Linked DNA regions of Homo sapiens. The protein of the gene in region 1 purifies or fractionates together with the protein of each later gene. This does not show direct contact. Each region holds a gene or a part of one and is shown on either strand. Other genes may lie near its edges.

Region 1 (3,500 bases):
TTGCTTTTCTTGTGACCCCGGTGTGGCAATCCGATTATCTCACTCTCTCAGCTGAGTCAGCAGAAAAGCCTTCTACAGAAAACAGGACATTGGTGGAGGGCCACGAAGCCAAGAATTCACTCAGTCGGCTGCCAAAGACCACCCAGACACTTGGCAGCTGCCTGTGCAGAAGAGCAAGGCCGTTCGGGTAGGTTACATTCTGTTATCTTCATTCTCTGACAGCCAAGCTACTCTTAAGGATTCCATTATTGCTATGTTATTAAGAAGAAGAATTTATGCAGTACTCACACACAACCTTTTGCAAAGGCTGCACGAGGTTTAGTCATGCAAATGTCCACCTTGTAATACCCATGAAAAGCATAGTTAAGAGGCCAAAGACAGAAGAAAAGGGCATCCCAATAGCTGAAATGGGTATACAAAAGCCATGTATTCTTGCCTAAGGAGGCCCCGATTATGCTCTCCCTTGTAGCCTGTTAGGAATTTATGTGCAATGTGAACATGCTTGGTTATCCAGCTTTCCAATCCGTTAAGGAATAAAAACTGCACATTAAAAAGGAAGCAATCAAATAGCCATGAGAGCTGGTACAACAACACCCGCCATCATGACAAGCGCAGGCAGCAAGGAAAGTTTACATTTTGTTCTCTGTAGCCTGCTAGGAAGGCAAGGGAATTCACGATGCCATTTAAAAGACTGCTGTCCAAAGTGTTCGAACAGTTTGGAGCTGGAAGGAACTTCACTGACACATAACCGGCAGCTCAGGCCCAGCCCTAGGGATGAAGGAGGGATCTGGCGTGAGGGGTTGACCTGTCGGCAGAAGCTGGCCTGGGGAGGGGGCGCCCAGCCAGTCCTTCCGTTCCAGATCTGTACAGGTGGAGATGCCACTTCCTCAGCGAGCCCGAGGGTCTGGCTGCCTTCATACAGCAAGAACGGTGCCCCTCCCTGCCAGAAGACATGAGACTCCTCCTGGCAGGGCCAGACCCCTGAAATGCTGCCTCTGCTTACCTCCTTGATCAGCTCGTCGATTTCAGAGCGACCGCACTCCATCTCTGTAACTTCATTCACGCAGCCAGCAGTTGCCACGCCTAGTTTGCCTACAGAAAACCAGACAAACACCATGACACATGGCACGGAGGCATCACAGCCTTTGCTGAAGCCATAATCTACTCTGTAAATGCTGAGTTTAAGGAAACATTAAGTTAGTGAGTGTCTTCATTGGTTTGGGAAAGGCACAGAATTTTTTTCCCATGCTTCAGTCATCTGATCAGCAAAGTCAAAAGAGAGAAGTTGGTGGTGGTGGTGGTGGTGGTTGTTTCTGCTAACACTTTTAAAGGATAAAGACAGCACTTTGGTCTCTTTCTTCTATTTTCTGAGATCCAAAATGAGTCTGTATCAGATATACTTTACAGCAAGCATTTGCTAACTTAAGAAGGTTACATTTATAAGACAGGGCATTTGAAAACACTCACCGATTTCCTGGCAAAACGTGTTGGCAGGTTGGGGTCTTTTTTGTATTGCCAGTTGGCAGGAAATCTCTTTTTGGCCTTTCCAAATATACACATGTGCATCAGTGCACACAGCCATGCACACACACACACCGCAGCACCCTCACTGATGCCCAGTGGGCACCAGCCGTAATCACAAACCGCCTAAAGGTGCACAGTGTCCACAGGGGCACGCTGGGCCAGCCTCTGCTCTTTCCCTTCTCATGCCGCTTCCTCAGTCGACAACTTACCTTATGAAGTTTATCAGTGTGAGACGTATCACAACCAACACTTACAAAAATTCATTATTCCCAGTGACCTACAGAATTTACCCACTGTTTCCTCCTGGCTGAATTTTGATTCCATTTCGATAGATTAAAGAATTCACTGAGAAGCTACTGATGGGGAAGTAGGGAGCAGGTGGGGCGCCCACCATGGAGCCTGCAAACCACTGAGGTTAGAGGCGAGTGGGCCCCTGTAGGCAATTATGCAAATGCTACATTGCTTCACCCCTGAGAACCTCCTGCTGCTTCTTTAACATCACTAGCAGGTGATGCTGGCTGCACCCCATGCTATAAACAAGTTGGGGTCACCTGCCGGTTCAAGCCTGACTGATCTTGGGGGTGGCAGTAGGGGCCAAAAGAAACTTCTCTATTCCTTCAAATCACACTTTACTTTTTGGTGATAAAAAAAATTGTCCAAAACTGGGAAATGAGGCAAAAAGATGACTGCTTAGCCTTTCAGGGTCACCCCAGACTATTATATAGAGGTTTCCTCCTAAAGGGCACCCGATTCTCCAAGGGAAGGTCAGTTTGTTGGCCTTACTATTTAGTATTGACTAGGGTTCACGCTCAGTAGAGTTAGGTGCTAATTGCAGACGATTAGGCTACAAACGCCCCAAACCGCAATTGTACTGTCCGGGTCGGGCATCGGCTTTGGCTCAGCTTTCTCGTTCATGGGCCACATTCACCAGCACCTCGGATTCTCTGTCCACCATCTTTACCATCATGCTGCCTCCTTCATGACGATTACACAACTCTCTGACACAGATTCACTATAGATTTGTTTGAATCACCATTTTAACTTCTTAAAAAATTCTAAGTCAACACCCCCACAGCGGGAAGAGTGCAAACTTCAAACTTCTGCACAGCCCCAAGAAGTTTTGGGGGTTTCTGTTTCTTACAGGCATTCGTGGACTACTCAGAAGCTTAGAAGGAGAAAGCCAGAGTGGGTTATTCTAAAAGCCTCATCAAGTGGCTAAGAAAATCAATGTGTTAAAAGCATGTTCTAAACCAGCGCTGGTAATTAGGTTTTATCTCATAAATCAGCTACAATTCATGGCAGCGGCACAGCACAGGGCTTTGAGAAGCCTTCTGAGGCCAGATCCCAGCTCAGTACTTTGGGATTTATTTTAGTGATGTAGGACCAGGGTGCGGCATGTTTTTGCTGTCCTGCTTTAATCTGTCACAAATGCTTTCTTGGGATTTGAGAGCTGGAAGAAACCTCAGGAATGATCACATCCCGGAGTTCCCAAATAACAATCAGGATCTAGTAACACACTGAGGCATATCCCATCTCCAACAACGAAGGCCATGGTGCCATCTTTGACAACTTCATCTGAGAGCTTTACTCCCAACCCTCATGATCCAGGCCTTCTGTGGTCACCATATTTTCCCCTGGCCTCCTCTGCAAGCTGCTGGAAAATGAAAGGATTCCTCATCAGAAACTGCTGGAGGATGCTTGTTCCTGTCCAGGGAGGCCCTACAAATGTCTGTGGTCAGGCAGCAAGTGGGGCACAGGTTGGGCAGCACCCAATCTCCTCCGCCCTTCCCTCTGAGGTCACTGGAAAGAGATCTCAATTTCTGCTTACACGAAGGAGAGAACTGCTTTGTTTAACTGAAACTATGTGCCCCAGACCCTGTGTCTACCCCAGACCCAAGTTCTGTGGTGAAGGCTACAGGCCAGGGCAGCTTCTGGAAGGTTTCATGCCCATAAAGGATAGTTACATTTTTGCTCTT
Region 2 (4,814 bases), on another chromosome or scaffold:
TTTTTGAGACAGAGTCTCACTCTGTTGCCCAGGCTGGAGTGCAGTGGTGCGATCTTGGCTCACTGCACCCTCTGCCTCCTGGGTTCAAGCTGGGGGATCTTGCCTTAGCCTCCTGAGTAGGTGGGATTACAGGTGCCCGCCACCACGCCCAGCTAATTTGTGTATTTTTAATAGAGACGGGGTTTCACCATGTTGGCCAGTCTGGTCTCAAACACCTGACCTCAGTTGATCCACCCGCCTCGTCATCGCAAAGTGCTGGGATTATAGGCGTGAGCCACGGCACCTGGTGCATGGTCAGTTGCAAGTACATTAACCATGCTGGTTTGCAACTGTCCCTGAAATAGCTGTCACCGTCCAAAAGCCTAAAGCCTGACAGCTCTGCTAACAATCACCTGTGCATCCCAAGTTTCCTTTCCTCCTCTCCACAGTACTCTGCTTTTTTTTTTTTTTTTTTTTTTTTGAGACAGAATCTCATCTGTCACTGAGGCTGGAGTGCAGTGGCACAATCTTGCCTCACTGCAGCTTCAAACTCTTGGGGTCAAGTGATCCTCCCACCTCAGCCTCTTGAGTAGCCAGGAGTACAGGCGTGCACCACCACACCCGGCTAATTTTTGTATTTTTTGTAGAGACAGGGTCTCACCACATTGCCCCAGTTGGTCTTGAACTCCTGAGCTCAGGCGATTTGCCCGCCTCTGCCTCCCAAAGTGCTGGGAGCACAGGCAGGAATCACTGCATCCGGCCTACCTGAAATTTGGTGTCTAGAGAACACTAAGAGGCACTGTGGCTTTCAGAGAAAATACGAGAAGCAGTGCTTTGCAAACTGACCACCATGGACAGTCATACTTGCAGTCTCACATCTGCCCGTTCTGTTTGCCTTTCTGTCTGTCGGAAGTTTCTTTTCATGGTTACCGTAAGGATAAACACCCCTCACTTTATTTTGAGATGGAGTTTTGCTCTTGTTGCCCAGGCTGGAGTGCAATGGCACGATCTCGGCTCACTGCAGCCTCTGCCTCCTGGGTTCAAGAGATTCTCTTGCCTCAGCCTCCTGAGTAGCTGGGATTACAGGTGCCCGCCACCATGGCAGGCTAATTTTTTTGTACTTTTAGGAAAGACGGGGTTTCACCATGTTGGCCAGGCTGGTCTCAAACTCCCAACCTCAGGTGATCCGTCCGCCTTGGCCTCCCAAAGTGCTGGGATTACAGGCATGAGCCACCGTGCCTGGCCACGGATAAACATCTCTACCCATGGAGTGATGGTTTACAAAGTGCTGTCATGCACTTTTTTGTGGACACATGCATGTCCTTGTGACCTTGTTTACTTTCACACCAGCTCTGCGAGGTCGGCAGCATGATCCCCATTTTCTAAAAGCAAACACGGATGCCACCAGATTCAAAGCGTCCTTACCTCTCACTCTCATCTGCAGCTTTTTCTGCCTCCTCCAGCTTCTGCAGGGCCGTGGCCAGTCGTTCCTGAGCCCTGTCCAACTCCTCCTCAACGAGCTGGATGCGTCGGTTGAGGGCGGCCACATCACCTTCAGCCTGGGGAGGTCGGAGGTGCAGCCATGTTAAGAAGTATCAGGCCAGCCACCAGTGGGAGCCTCCCCCATGTCCTGCCCTCTGTTAACCTGATCTTCCCCGTCAAAGCCCACCCAGGAGTCCAGGCCATAGGGAATTTACACTCATACCAAAATTTCAGTATGATCTTCCCGGAAAATGTCTGGGAAAAACATCTACCACTCCATAGCAAAAGATGAGCATCGCCAAGCGTGGTGGCTCATGCCTGTAATCCCAGCACTTTGGGAGGCTGAGGTGGGTGTATCACAAGGTCAAGAGATCGAGACCATCCTGGCCAACGTGGTGAAACCCTGTCTCTACTAAAAATAGAAAAATTAGCTGAGTGTGGTGGCACGTGCCTGTAGTTCCACATGCTCAGGAGGCTGAGGCAGAAGAATCACTTGAACCCGGGAGGCGGAGGTTGCCGTGAGCTGAGATCGTGCCACTGCACTCCAGCCTGGTGACAGAGCAAGACTCCGTCTCAAAAAAAAAAAAAAAAAGCGAGTGTCCCAGTACAAGATGGGTAGTTGAGTCAACATAGGAGTCAAACATACCATGTGCTTTGAGATGAATGTCAGTGCTGGTCTCTCCAGCAACACAATAGACCCAACGTTAGGCTAAGATCTAAGATAGGCTCTTCTCTGAAAAAGGCACACAGTGTTACCACGTAGAGAGTTCTAGGGCTCACTGTGAGATTCTTAGAAAGCAAGGCCATCAGTGACCCGGCTCATTGTGTCCTGTGAGTTCCGCTCCCATTCACCTGAATGGCAAGATAAATGCAAGACTATGGAGCCCTCAGTTAAATGTTGGCCATGCAATTACCAAGGTGGGACGAGGCGGGGGAGCCTCGTTGGAATTCCATCCTTCAATCCGCCTGGCTGAGAGATGGCAGGACAAAAAGATATGGAAAGGGAAAGAAAACTTGGTTGCAGGCATGGAAGACATACCCCAATAGTGTTATTGGCTTTTCAAGGTGTTTTTACCTACAAGAAAGGAAGTACAATGGGAAGCATTAAACCAGGAACTCCAGGGCCAAAAAGTGCTGGGCTGGAATCCCCGCTTTGTCATTTTCTTTTTAATTTTTTTTTTGAGATGGAGTCTTGCGCCGTCACCAAGGCTGGAGTGCAATGGCATGATCTCGGCTTGCTGCAACTTCTACCTCCCGGGTTCAAGCAATTCTGCCTCAGCCTCCTGAGTAGCTGGGATTACAGACGGACACCACCACGCCTTGCTATTTTTTTGTATTTTTAGTAGAGACAGGGTTTCGTCTTGTTGGTCAGGCTGGTCTCAAACTCCTGGCCTCACGTGATCCACCCGCCTTGGTCTCCCAAAGTACTGGGATTACAGGCGTGAGCCACTGCGCCCGACCGTGCTTTGTCATTTTCACAGCCACGTGGTGTTGGGAAGGTTGCTTCCTCATCCTGGCCCTCTCCATCCCAAAGCCTGATTAGTTACCGGACTGCCTTGAGGCTGTAACTCCAGAGGGTGGCGCCGCTTATGCCCAGCAGGTGGGATGTGCCAGAGAAAGGCATCTCTTACTGCCACGGTTTTATTTTACTGCAATTTCATCCTCACACATCGCACCCATTTTACAGGTGAAGAAACCGAGGGGCCCCACTGGGGGAAGTGGTTTTATTCAGTGACTCAGAATTGGTAAGAAATGAATGGCCTCTTAAGACCCACCCAGGGCTCTTCCTTGTCAGAACCTGTCCCCTAGGTCCTGCCAGGGCTACGAGGCAAGGCGAGTTTTCCAGCGATGCCTGCTCTTTGGAAGGAATATTGAGAACGGGTCAAACGGGCCTCAACCGAGAGGAAAAGGGAAGCCACGCTAGCTTTTTCCTATCAGAACAAATGAAGAATCCCTGAACTGGGGAAGGCTATCAAAATTATTAGGAAGGCCGGGCGCGGTGGCTCACATCCGTAATCCTAACACTTTGGGAGGCGGAGGTGGGTGGATCACATGAGGTCAGGAGTTCGAGACCAGCCTGGCCAACATGGTGAAACCGCATCTCTACTAAAAATACAAAAAAATCAGTTGGGTGTGGGGGCAGGCGCCTGTAATCCCAGCTACTTGGGAGGCTGAGGCAGGAGAATCGCTTGAACCCGGGAGGTGAAGGTTGCAATGAGCCGAGATCGCGCCACTGCACTCCAGCCTGGGTAACAGAGCAAGATTCCGTCTCAAAAAAAAAAAATTATTAGGAAACCACTCCCTCTCCTGCCCTGAGTTCATACTGGGGGAAAAAAAAATAGAATGAGGCTAACGTGGCCGAAAAACTACACAAATAGAGTCAGGAAGGTTTCTCAGCCTCAGATTCCTAGAAGCAGAAAGAGGGCACTCCCACAGGTGTTTCGTATTGCAGTGTCCTCTGAAACACCAAATGCAGAGAATTGTGAAAACCACTGATGAAACTGTCTTAAGAAACGTCACTGAGGCCTTCCCATGAATGGGTGCCTTTCATTCTTTTTAATTGCCTAGATCTTAACTCCTCCTACCACCTTCAGTAACTGGGCCAGGAACTGATGTTGCAAAAACACTCTGCAACCAACACCATTATCGAATTCCAGGACATTTTCATAACCCGCCAAAGACAAACAAACAAACAAAAAACTGTGTACCCATTAGCAGTCGAGGAATTGATTTTAAAGATCAAACAGAGGTGCTTGATTCATGAGTTGTCTTTTAAGAAGTGAGTAGCCCTTATGTGGGAAATTCTGAATCCTGGCAAACAACGCTTTTGGCAGATTTTCAGCTGTCTGGAGTTGGGAGATACACGCATATCTGTACATGCATACATATATATGTATTTTTGAAAAACTGCTAGTCACGGCCGAGTCATTTTGGGTTCCACCCCTTCCTGCAATCAAAGCCTTCCACACGCTACAAAGGATTTCCCTTATAAGGTAAAAGAGGCTTGCTAGATACATGTGGCAAAGGAACAGGAAGATGTCAGTTAATCACACAAAAATCTAAACGAAACCAGCTGTCGGGAAACAGGCCCAGAAGTCTACCACACGCCGGCTCCTGGCTTATTCTACAAGAGTGAAAGGTTTTTTTTTTTTTTTTTTTAACCCACCCCTGGTCTTAGTTCCTTTTGCCCTGGGAGAGGTTTTCCCTCTCCCAGACGGAAAGAAGCATCCTTTGCTTTTTCAAGAACTTTTCGAACTTTTTCAAGAAGTCTTCAACTCTCCAAAAACATCTTCTCTCCCAACTAGACGGTCTTGCTCCTAAATCTTGGCTCCAGGCTGAGGGCCATTTTGAAG
Region 3 (4,814 bases), on another chromosome or scaffold:
CATTCTGAGCAACTAGGGGTTACCAGTACCTTCAGCTTATGAATTTCAGGGGTACACGATTCAACCCATATGCCTGGGTTTAAAGAGCCAGCATCCAAAAGGCTTAGCCTGAGCTAATTATAGAAGCATCTCAACTGTCTCAGTGGGAAAAGATAGCCATTAATTCCCAGAGTGTATTCTACAACTACAGTGTTCAGAAAGCAAGCAAGCAAAATGGAAGATGTCATTATGCATTTGAAAAAGTTGGGTTTTAAAAAGTTAAATAGATTCCATTGTTGAAGGATTTCTGGGGTCCTTCTTAAATGCTAATATATGTGTCAGTCTTCAAGAGGAAGTGGTATGATATGTAGTATTTTGCACACATATTTGAATGTGCAGTGTTTTTTTTGGATCATCTCACAGAGTTAGTACTCATCAGAACTGGATGGGAGGCAGATGGGTCCTCCTGTGTGAGCTTGGCTACACGGCTTATTGTGCTCTTCAGGCCTGTCACCCACCTCTATGAAATGAACACTCCTCTTCTTTATTGAGAGGGGGATAAATTACATGAGTTTGCTCCAGCTCTGACATTCTACGACTGTGGGAGTCTATAACAAATTAAAGGAGAGATGAGCAAAGGAAGCAGAAGCCAATATCCTTGACGGGATATGTGTTCCCACCTGACCACCATTTGAACAATTTGAAGTTCCTTAACCTATCTGTATTGAATGGGACCCACTGGGTGACAGGCAACAGTAACTCCCCACTTAAGCTTAGAAAAAGCATTTATTTGAGAGCTACGAGGGCATCTTAGAGAATTTAAAATCAGAAATTGACATCAGAAATTCACTGAAATGGGAACCCCAGAAGTGCTTTCTCTCTGTTGTCCTCTTCTCACCACACATTCACTTCATTCTTCTCTCCTGCTAGAGACCGTCTTCTTTTGCCTCACAGTCCTGTGGCAGAACATGGCTGCAAACAGTCCAGCCACCTGGCCCTCATAGTCTCACAGAAAAGAAACCAAACTGGTCCAGCTTAGTTTAGCTCTGACCCATGGACCAATCACTATGATCCACGTAATACCATGTGGGAGTCATGGAATTATTGAACCAAAGAGTATCAAAGAAAGAAAGAACCTTAGAGAAACCTAACCAGATTTGCTCCTTTTTTGGATGCTGCATTTGAGGGTGAGAGAGCGCAAGTGACTTGTTCAGAGGCATACACAAGCTAGTAAGCTAGAAGAAAGGCTGGCTTCATGTGTGGAGGTATAATGGGCCTTCAGCTCAACTGAACCCATGGAAAAAAGGGACTCTGTGGGGCTTATACAGCCCTTTCCTCATACAGCCAATACCACCTAGCTTGGCCAGAGTCTCTGTGGTCTTATTTCTTCCCTAGTGCATTTAAGAGGATGGTTGGATCTCACGGCCACTTCTCTCTCCTCAGATGCATTCCTTGCGCCTGCTCAGCCAGAACCAGCCATCTCAGATCTTTCTGAGCATGAGTGACAACTTCAGGCCTGTCCAGCCACTCAACAACCGCTGCATCCGCACCAATATCAACTTCAGTTTACAGGGGAAGGACTGTCCAAACAACCGAGCCCAGAAGCTTCAGTATAGAGGTGGGTTTGGTGGCTCAGAGAGTGGAGGATCTAGGCTAGAGCTCAGTCTTTCTGCTTAGACCTGTTCTTAAAGGCCTGGCATTATCTTCCATTATAGGAATGATGACTGTAAATGACAATAGCCATCACACTCCATTTGCATGGTGATGAAGGTCTAAAGTTTTGATATATGTGATACAGATACCTGTATGAATGCATCTAGGTAGGTTGGTAGGTAGGTAAGTAAGTGGATGGATGGATGGATGGACGGTAGGTAGATGGCAAGGTGTAGAGGTTTGATATATGTGAGATATATATATATGTAACCTTTAAACACATATATCAAACCTTTAAAACCCCTGTAGATCAGGCAAGACAGCTTTTTATTGCCATTTTTCAAAAGAGCCCAGAAAGGCTGATGTTCCCAAGGTTATCTGTTAGAACAGGACAGTGAAAAGCATTAGAGCTTTTAAGTATATGGAAGAAAGACCTGCTTTCCCCTAGAAGATGAACAAATACTCTAAAGGGCAGGCCATTAGAATCCAATGGGGTAATTTGTGAGTGTATCTTTGCCCAGTGCTATGTCCCTAGAAATGGTTATTATTCCCACTAAAGGGGACATTTAAGTTGACATCTGCCTCCTGTAACTCTGTGGTGCACACCCAGCCCTCTCTCTCTTCCCTTCTGCTTACTACTAAACATCTGTTAATCATTGTGGTAAACACTCAGTGTGGAAAGAAAGATGGAGGAAGGATGGGGTCTTGGAGAGCCCTGGACTGGAAATCAGGACACCCAAGTTCTGGGCCTAGTTCTAACAAGCTGTGCAAACCCAGCCACATTGTTTACCCCCTAGACCTGGCTTCTTCGTGACAGTTCCTATGCCATCTACTTCACAGTTTGTTAAAGGAAGCAAACAAGAGCCTGGATAGGGAAGCCCTTTGTAGCAATAACATGCTCCCCAAATAGGAGGGCTGTGGTTATTACCAGACAGCTTTTAGAAGCAGCCTCCACCACTACTCCTTGATCCTCCACTTCATTCCTCCTACTTCCCCCTTGTTCCCTTCTTTTTTCTCTCTCAGATACACTTGCATGCCCAAACTACATATTTTCCACACCCTTCCAGCCGGAACTACCAGAAAAGTAAATACCTAACTCATTCATTGCTTCTTCTCTTTAGTCAAAACCCCTGTATTGTGTTCCTACCATGTGTCAGTTAGCTGGGTGATGGGTGACAGATAAGACACCTATCCAAACAGAGCATATGGTCTACAACAGGAGTCTACACACTTTTTCTATAAAGGACAGAGAGTAAATATGTTAAGTTTTGAAGCCATAAAATCTCTATGGCACTCTGACATTGTAGTATGAAATCAGCCATTGATAATATCTAAATGAATGGGTATGGCTGTGTTCCAATAAAACTTTATTTATAAAAACAGGTATTGTGCTGGATTAGATCTGTGGACTGTTGTTTTTCCATCCCTAGCCTAGAGCAGTGTCATCCACTAGAACTTTCTGTGGTAATGGGAATGTTTTCATGATAGGTTGATGACTATCCTGCACTGCCCAATACAGCAGCTACTAGCCATATGTGGCTATTGAACATTGGATGGGTGACTAGTACAATGATGCAACTAATTTTTTATTTTAATTAATTTAAATTCATAGTAGCCACATATGGCAGCTAGTGGCCACCATATTGGTCAGTATAGGCCTAGAAGGTCATGGAGAATTGGAAGGGAGTAGTTGGAATGCATATAAGTAAGCAGGCATTTACAAAACAGTCCCTTCCCCTCTGGAGGAATTCTCTAAAACTGTGTGCAAATTAATTGAGTATGCCTCGTTTTATGTTGTATGTGTGATTTTTTTTTTCTTTCTCTCTCTTTGCAGTAAATGAATGGCTCCTCAAGTAGGGAACAAAGCCAAGAAGAATCCCACCTCAGTGAAATGCTACAACTGTGAATTGACGTAACCTAGAATGTCCCCCTTCTTGCTTCTCTCTCCTTCTTTCCCCCAAGCCTCATTCATTCTTGGGATTGGCCCTTTCTTCATGAAAAGTGTCTGCAAAACCATGGCAGAGGAATACATCTCTCACACATACTCACAAACACACACACAAGCACTTGCACATACATACAAACACATGCAAACATACCTACACACACACACACTCTTACAACCTCCATCATGGGAAGTCAAGTTTCAGAAACAAAAGTCTCATTCATAAGAGGTCTTAGAAGAAAATAACCAGTTAACCTGATTTCAATTTTGATACCGTTTTCCTGAACTAATAAATCTACCCAATGAGACTTTTCAGCCTTTGTACATACAAAATTCTTCCAAAAGAGAGAGGAGAAAATACAGCTCTGATGGCATCAAACGGACTTTGCATCAAGTAATTTCAGATAGTGTCCTAGGATCCTTTGAGGGTGCTGGTAGCAGGTGAGCAGGACAAAGTTGACCAAGGACACTTATTTCTAGATTATGATTCTTCTGTTTACTCAACAATTTACAAAGAAAAAAAGGACAGACATTGAAGAGCTACACATTGTATATATATCACCACAGACTATAAGGAAATGGAATTATTTCCCTCTTTGTCACATATCTGTAGTAGGATTTGCCAAGATCAGAAATGATCCATTTGCTGTTTCTTGTTTTCCAAAGGTCATACATTGTGTTTGGTTATTGTTACCAGCTCAATAAATGTGTTTAACGAGTTAATTTCATTTTTCTGGCTTTGGTCTGTTCTCCTTCCTTACAGGCTAAGCCCTGGCTCCATGCAACTGCATTCTTTGATTTCACTTGTTCCTTCATCTACATGTTTTGTTCATTTGCAGCCAGTTTTTACTGAGTTTGTGGCAATCAGGAATGCATTTGCTAAGCAAGTATGACTTTAATTCCACTCCATGGCTCAATCATTCACATGAGGTGAGCTTCAGCCTGAGATAGCAGGCGACAGACTTCTTGCGTTTCAAAACTGCCATGCCCCCCTGTGATGCTCCCGTGAAGGAATGCACTTTGCCTTGTAAGTTCCTGGGAAAGGGGTATGTTTTCTCTCCAGGTGCAGCCAGATCTCACAAAGTACAAAACGAATGCCTTTCTTTTCTTGTTTATAATGGTCACTCACTGTGTTTGGTTACTGTCAAGAAATCAATAAATGTGTTTAACAAGTTACCCAGTACCCATGTCTGACTTTATTGAGAAAGAGGATGCTCCCTGCTGAAGTCTCTGAGTC
Region 4 (3,916 bases), on another chromosome or scaffold:
CAGCTCCAAAGTTTCTGATTCAGTTTATGGGGTGGGAACTGATAATTTGCATTTCTAGCAAGTTCTCTAATGCTGCATTATAGAAATAGTAGCTTCGAATGCATTTTTAGCACCACAAAAAAAATATCTAGACCCTTATTTGATACTGTGCTCTGATCATACAGAATATAGGGCCAAATTTCAGCAATCATTCTCAGGGGATACAGAGTAACTGGGTTAACCTAAAGACAAAAGTAAACTAAGAACATTTTCTGAGACTGCTGATTTCTTAGACATTTTGAACCTCCGCCCAATTTGCTCAACAGCAATGCATTTGCTTCCTCTTCCATTCTTCCCCTTGTTTCCACCCACTTCTGATGGCAGATAGTTCTGGTCAAGTGCAGAATGTTTGATCTTGAACTCCCAAGTGCCCACTGGTTGGTGGGTGGCTCTGTTGGTCAGGTTGGCTGGGACATTCTGAGCATGTGGGCTGGCTCTGAGCTGTGTGATGACCTTCTAGGTCATTACAGTCCTGTATTTAGTCATAGGATCTATCCCAGCCCTTACGCCTTCATCACCTGGTAGGCTTAGACCTCTGATCTCAGCAGATTTAAGGGGCAATTCTATTGTGTGAGGACCTGGCATTGCTAAGTTCTCAGTGAGCTAATAAACCTTCACCACAGCATGGGACCCAAGCATCTCTGATCACGGTTCCTCTTGGTAATTCTTCCACCTGTGGCAGCTGCTCAGCTTGGAATGGTTCACTCTGACCTTTCCGGTACCACTTGTCTAAAGATCGCCTGCAGACTGCCCTGCAGCGGAGACTTGCTGCCAGAGAAAAACCATGATTGCCCTTTATACCATAATTGAGTGGAGACAGGATTTACCTCATCGGAGCACCTTGTCTGACTCCATTTCATATTATTAAAAACAGAGACTCTGGACTTCATGGTTTTTTTTTTTTTATAAAAAATTTATTGAGATGATGTAATTATAGGCTTTTCTTTAAAAATTATTTGCAACTCACTGGCCCTGAGAAAAGGCATTTTTTTTTGTTTTTTTTTTCTTTTTTGTTACATTCATTTGATTCAGTCCCTTATAAACCCCACACCTCATAAACAAGAGATTAGAAACTAAACAAAAAGGGGGGCGGGGAAGGAAATTCTAGAGTCGTTCTGGTTTGCAGGTGGTTGCGGTCACAAAGAGAAATCATCAAGAATGTTCACTTGGCATGTGTGAAAGATTCAGGGGGTCTGCAGCTGTTTAGTGTTGATGCAGTTGGGTCAAAAGAGTATCAGGTTAGTCTTCTGTGGGTTTTAGGGAGGGATTATGGTGCCTCCCTCCCACCCCACTGGCTTCCTTGTGTCACAGCCTTTATTTCTACTCCGAAGAGGAGCAGGAGAGAGTGAACAGCCTCTAACTAGCACCAAATGCTTGGGCAAAGAAAACTGCCCCTTTTTCTTGGTGTGTTTTCCCAAATCTTTTATCTTCAGTTTCCTGGGTGGGAATGAGCCACACAGGGTGAGCCCAGGCTGGATCCTGAGCCTAATTCCATTCTTGGCATGCTGTCTGCTCCTAGGGCAAGTCACTTCACCTCCCTGACACCCAGGTTTCTTTTTTGCAAAAGGGAGTTCCTATTTCAAAAATGTATTCAGACTTGGAGCCTAGGCAGTGAAAGGTGGGAATGGTGGTTACTTCATCATTTCGGTAAATTGTCACAGCCATTTGAATTTCAGCTAAAGCGACATTCTCATTTGGACAAGAGATCAGTATCAAAAGACATTGGATCAGAGGGTTCCAAACATACTGGTGAAAGGAGAAAATCCATTGGTCTATTATTCCTCTTTTTCTGTGGGGATACCCTCATCTCCCTAAAGGATTTGGAACATTGGTGATGCCACCTTAAGCAAAACCAAGTCGCCCTGGGTCAAGATCTTAGAGTTCATGTTACCTTCAACATAGCCAGTCTAGCCAATTACCAGTGCTTTCTTCTGATAGAGAGGAGACTGCCTGGCTAGCTTGAGATGTAGGAATGAGAACTTCAAGACCCAAGTGAGAATGCACATCCATCACACGGCAGGGCTCCTTTGCATTTTCCTCTCCTGACTTCAGATTTGTCTCCTGACAACACCCCTAGTACTTAGTGTTGAAATGAGTCACGCCGGGTGGATTAGGCAGGTACAATATAAACTCTGAAAGCAGGGATTATGGCTGATTGAGCTTTGGGTCCCTCAGTGTCCAGCAGGTGCTTCATCAAGGTTTGCTAACTGAATCTGAAATCTTTAGGGTCTGCAGGGTGTAAATACTGTATCCAGGTGCTGGCACTACCCGGGTTTTCTCATAAAGAACAAATGAAGAGGACATTTGCAGTTAGGGGAATTACGAAATCCTTATTGGTAGTACAGATTGATATCCCTTATCTGAAATGCTTGGGACCAGAAGTGTTCTGGGTCTCGGATTTTTAAATGTTTTTTTTTGTATCCTGGAATATTTGTGTATGTGTGTGTGTGTGTATATATATATATATATATATATATATATATATATATATATATATATAAAATGAGAGATCTTGGGGATGGACACAAAGTCTAAACACAAAATTCATTTATGGCTCATATATACTTTATACACATAGCCTGAAGGTAATTTTATGATATTTGAAATCATTTTCTATATAAAACAGTTTGTGTACATTGAACCATAAGAAAGCAAATGTGTTTGTTAGGTGTGGAATTTTCCACTCATGGTGTCATAGCGTTCAGGAAGGTTTGGATTTTGGGGCATTTGGGGGTTTTAACTGTTCAGATTAGGGATGCTCAACCTGTATCTGAATGGGAAATAAAGACTATATTGGAATGAGCGCCTTCTATTTCTTCTTCAAGTGGCTGAAGGTATCATCCTAAGTCTAACATATTCTCCTGGGATATTGCTTTAAATATAGAAATGCTTGGGGCAAAAGGGAATTTCCCTCCATAATTCAACTGTTAAGATTCTTTGAACAGTAAGAGACTGAGTTCTTGCACTTGGGTGAAGAGGCCAGACTGAGAGGCTCTAATCCTAGCAACATCATGCCCTGGTCTCTGATTTCATATTCATACAGAGGGATGCAGTAAAAAATCCCTTTCTCTCCATTCTTAAAATCAGTGGCTTTCACAATACATCAGGTATTTGGCTTAATCTCTGCATTTCAGATAGAATACCAGTCATCTTAGAGGCTGAAATAGGGATCACCATGTCCTACTGAATGCTCTCAAAAGACACCTGCAGCGTGCTGAGATCCAGCAGAATCTCATCACCATTCAAGCAGACTGAGACCCACTCGCCTCATATAGAAGGTCCCTGACCTCCCGGAAGGTTGAATGGTGGGGCGCCTGTGACAGTAGGAGTGGGCTGGCTATGCCCGTGTGTCTACCTGTGCTCTGATAAGAGGCAGGGACAGAGCAAGGCTGAAGAGAGCCTTGATCAGCTCCTCAATTCCAGTGTCCTTGAACCATAGTCCATCTGTTTGCACCCTAGGTTGGTGTCCTTGTCAGTAAGGCCGAGGGAAAATTCCTCTTGCCTGTGTGACCCAAACTCTACATGTCTGACTCAACTCAGAAAAAGCTGGGGAGAAGCCCAGGGGTCTGGTAACTTCACCTGGGAGCTGCTGCTGAGGGCACATATGTATCCCGGAGGAGCTGTGAGTTTCTCCCCCAACTGAGTAGAGGAAACAGAGGGGAACAAGGAGGGGGTGCTTTGTAAGGCAGGTGTAATCTGGATTAAAAGAAATTGTACTCCAAATATTGGATTTCTGAGACCTATATTGGAAGAGTCAATTTAGATGGCTAGAAAAGGAAAAAAAAAAAAAATCTAAAACAGCTTTCAAAAATACTAAGAAGTGGCACTACCCTCATTTTACAAGATACCATCGATCTTATTTTGAGGTGAAAAAGAG

The links. Proteins that work in one complex are often made in the same cells at the same time.
Region 2: the proteins of IRF8 (region 1) and TPM4 purify together in Homo sapiens (affinity purification with mass spectrometry; one large-scale study listed by BioGRID and IntAct). This does not show direct contact.
Region 3: the proteins of IRF8 (region 1) and CA10 purify together in Homo sapiens (co-immunoprecipitation; one large-scale study listed by IntAct). This does not show direct contact.
Region 4: the proteins of IRF8 (region 1) and ETV6 purify together in Homo sapiens (affinity purification with mass spectrometry, with the first as the bait; one study listed by BioGRID). This does not show direct contact.

Annotation. Positions count from the first base shown.
Region 1 is NC_000016.10:85,909,162-85,912,661, reverse strand, and holds part of IRF8 (interferon regulatory factor 8), read right to left. Parts: coding exon 3,489-3,500; intron 1,093-3,488; coding exon 1,004-1,092; intron 1-1,003. UniProt on the Homo sapiens protein: Transcription factor that specifically binds to the upstream regulatory region of type I interferon (IFN) and IFN-inducible MHC class I genes (the interferon consensus sequence (ICS)). Can both act as a transcriptional activator or repressor.
Region 2 is NC_000019.10:16,078,637-16,083,450, reverse strand, and holds part of TPM4 (tropomyosin alpha-4 chain), read right to left. Parts: intron 2,537-4,814; exon of another isoform or gene 2,499-2,536; coding exon of another isoform or gene 2,376-2,498; intron 1,539-2,375; coding exon 1,405-1,538; intron 1-1,404. UniProt on the Homo sapiens protein: Binds to actin filaments in muscle and non-muscle cells. Plays a central role, in association with the troponin complex, in the calcium dependent regulation of vertebrate striated muscle contraction.
Region 3 is NC_000017.11:51,630,259-51,635,072, reverse strand, and holds the end of CA10 (carbonic anhydrase-related protein 10 precursor), read left to right. Parts: intron 1-1,422; coding exon 1,423-1,597; intron 1,598-3,466; coding exon 3,467-3,489; 3' UTR 3,490-4,753; downstream 4,754-4,814. UniProt on the Homo sapiens protein: Does not have a catalytic activity.
Region 4 is NC_000012.12:11,892,418-11,896,333, reverse strand, and holds the end of ETV6 (transcription factor ETV6), read right to left. Parts: 3' UTR 957-3,916; downstream 1-956. UniProt on the Homo sapiens protein: Transcriptional repressor; binds to the DNA sequence 5'-CCGGAAGT-3'. Plays a role in hematopoiesis and malignant transformation.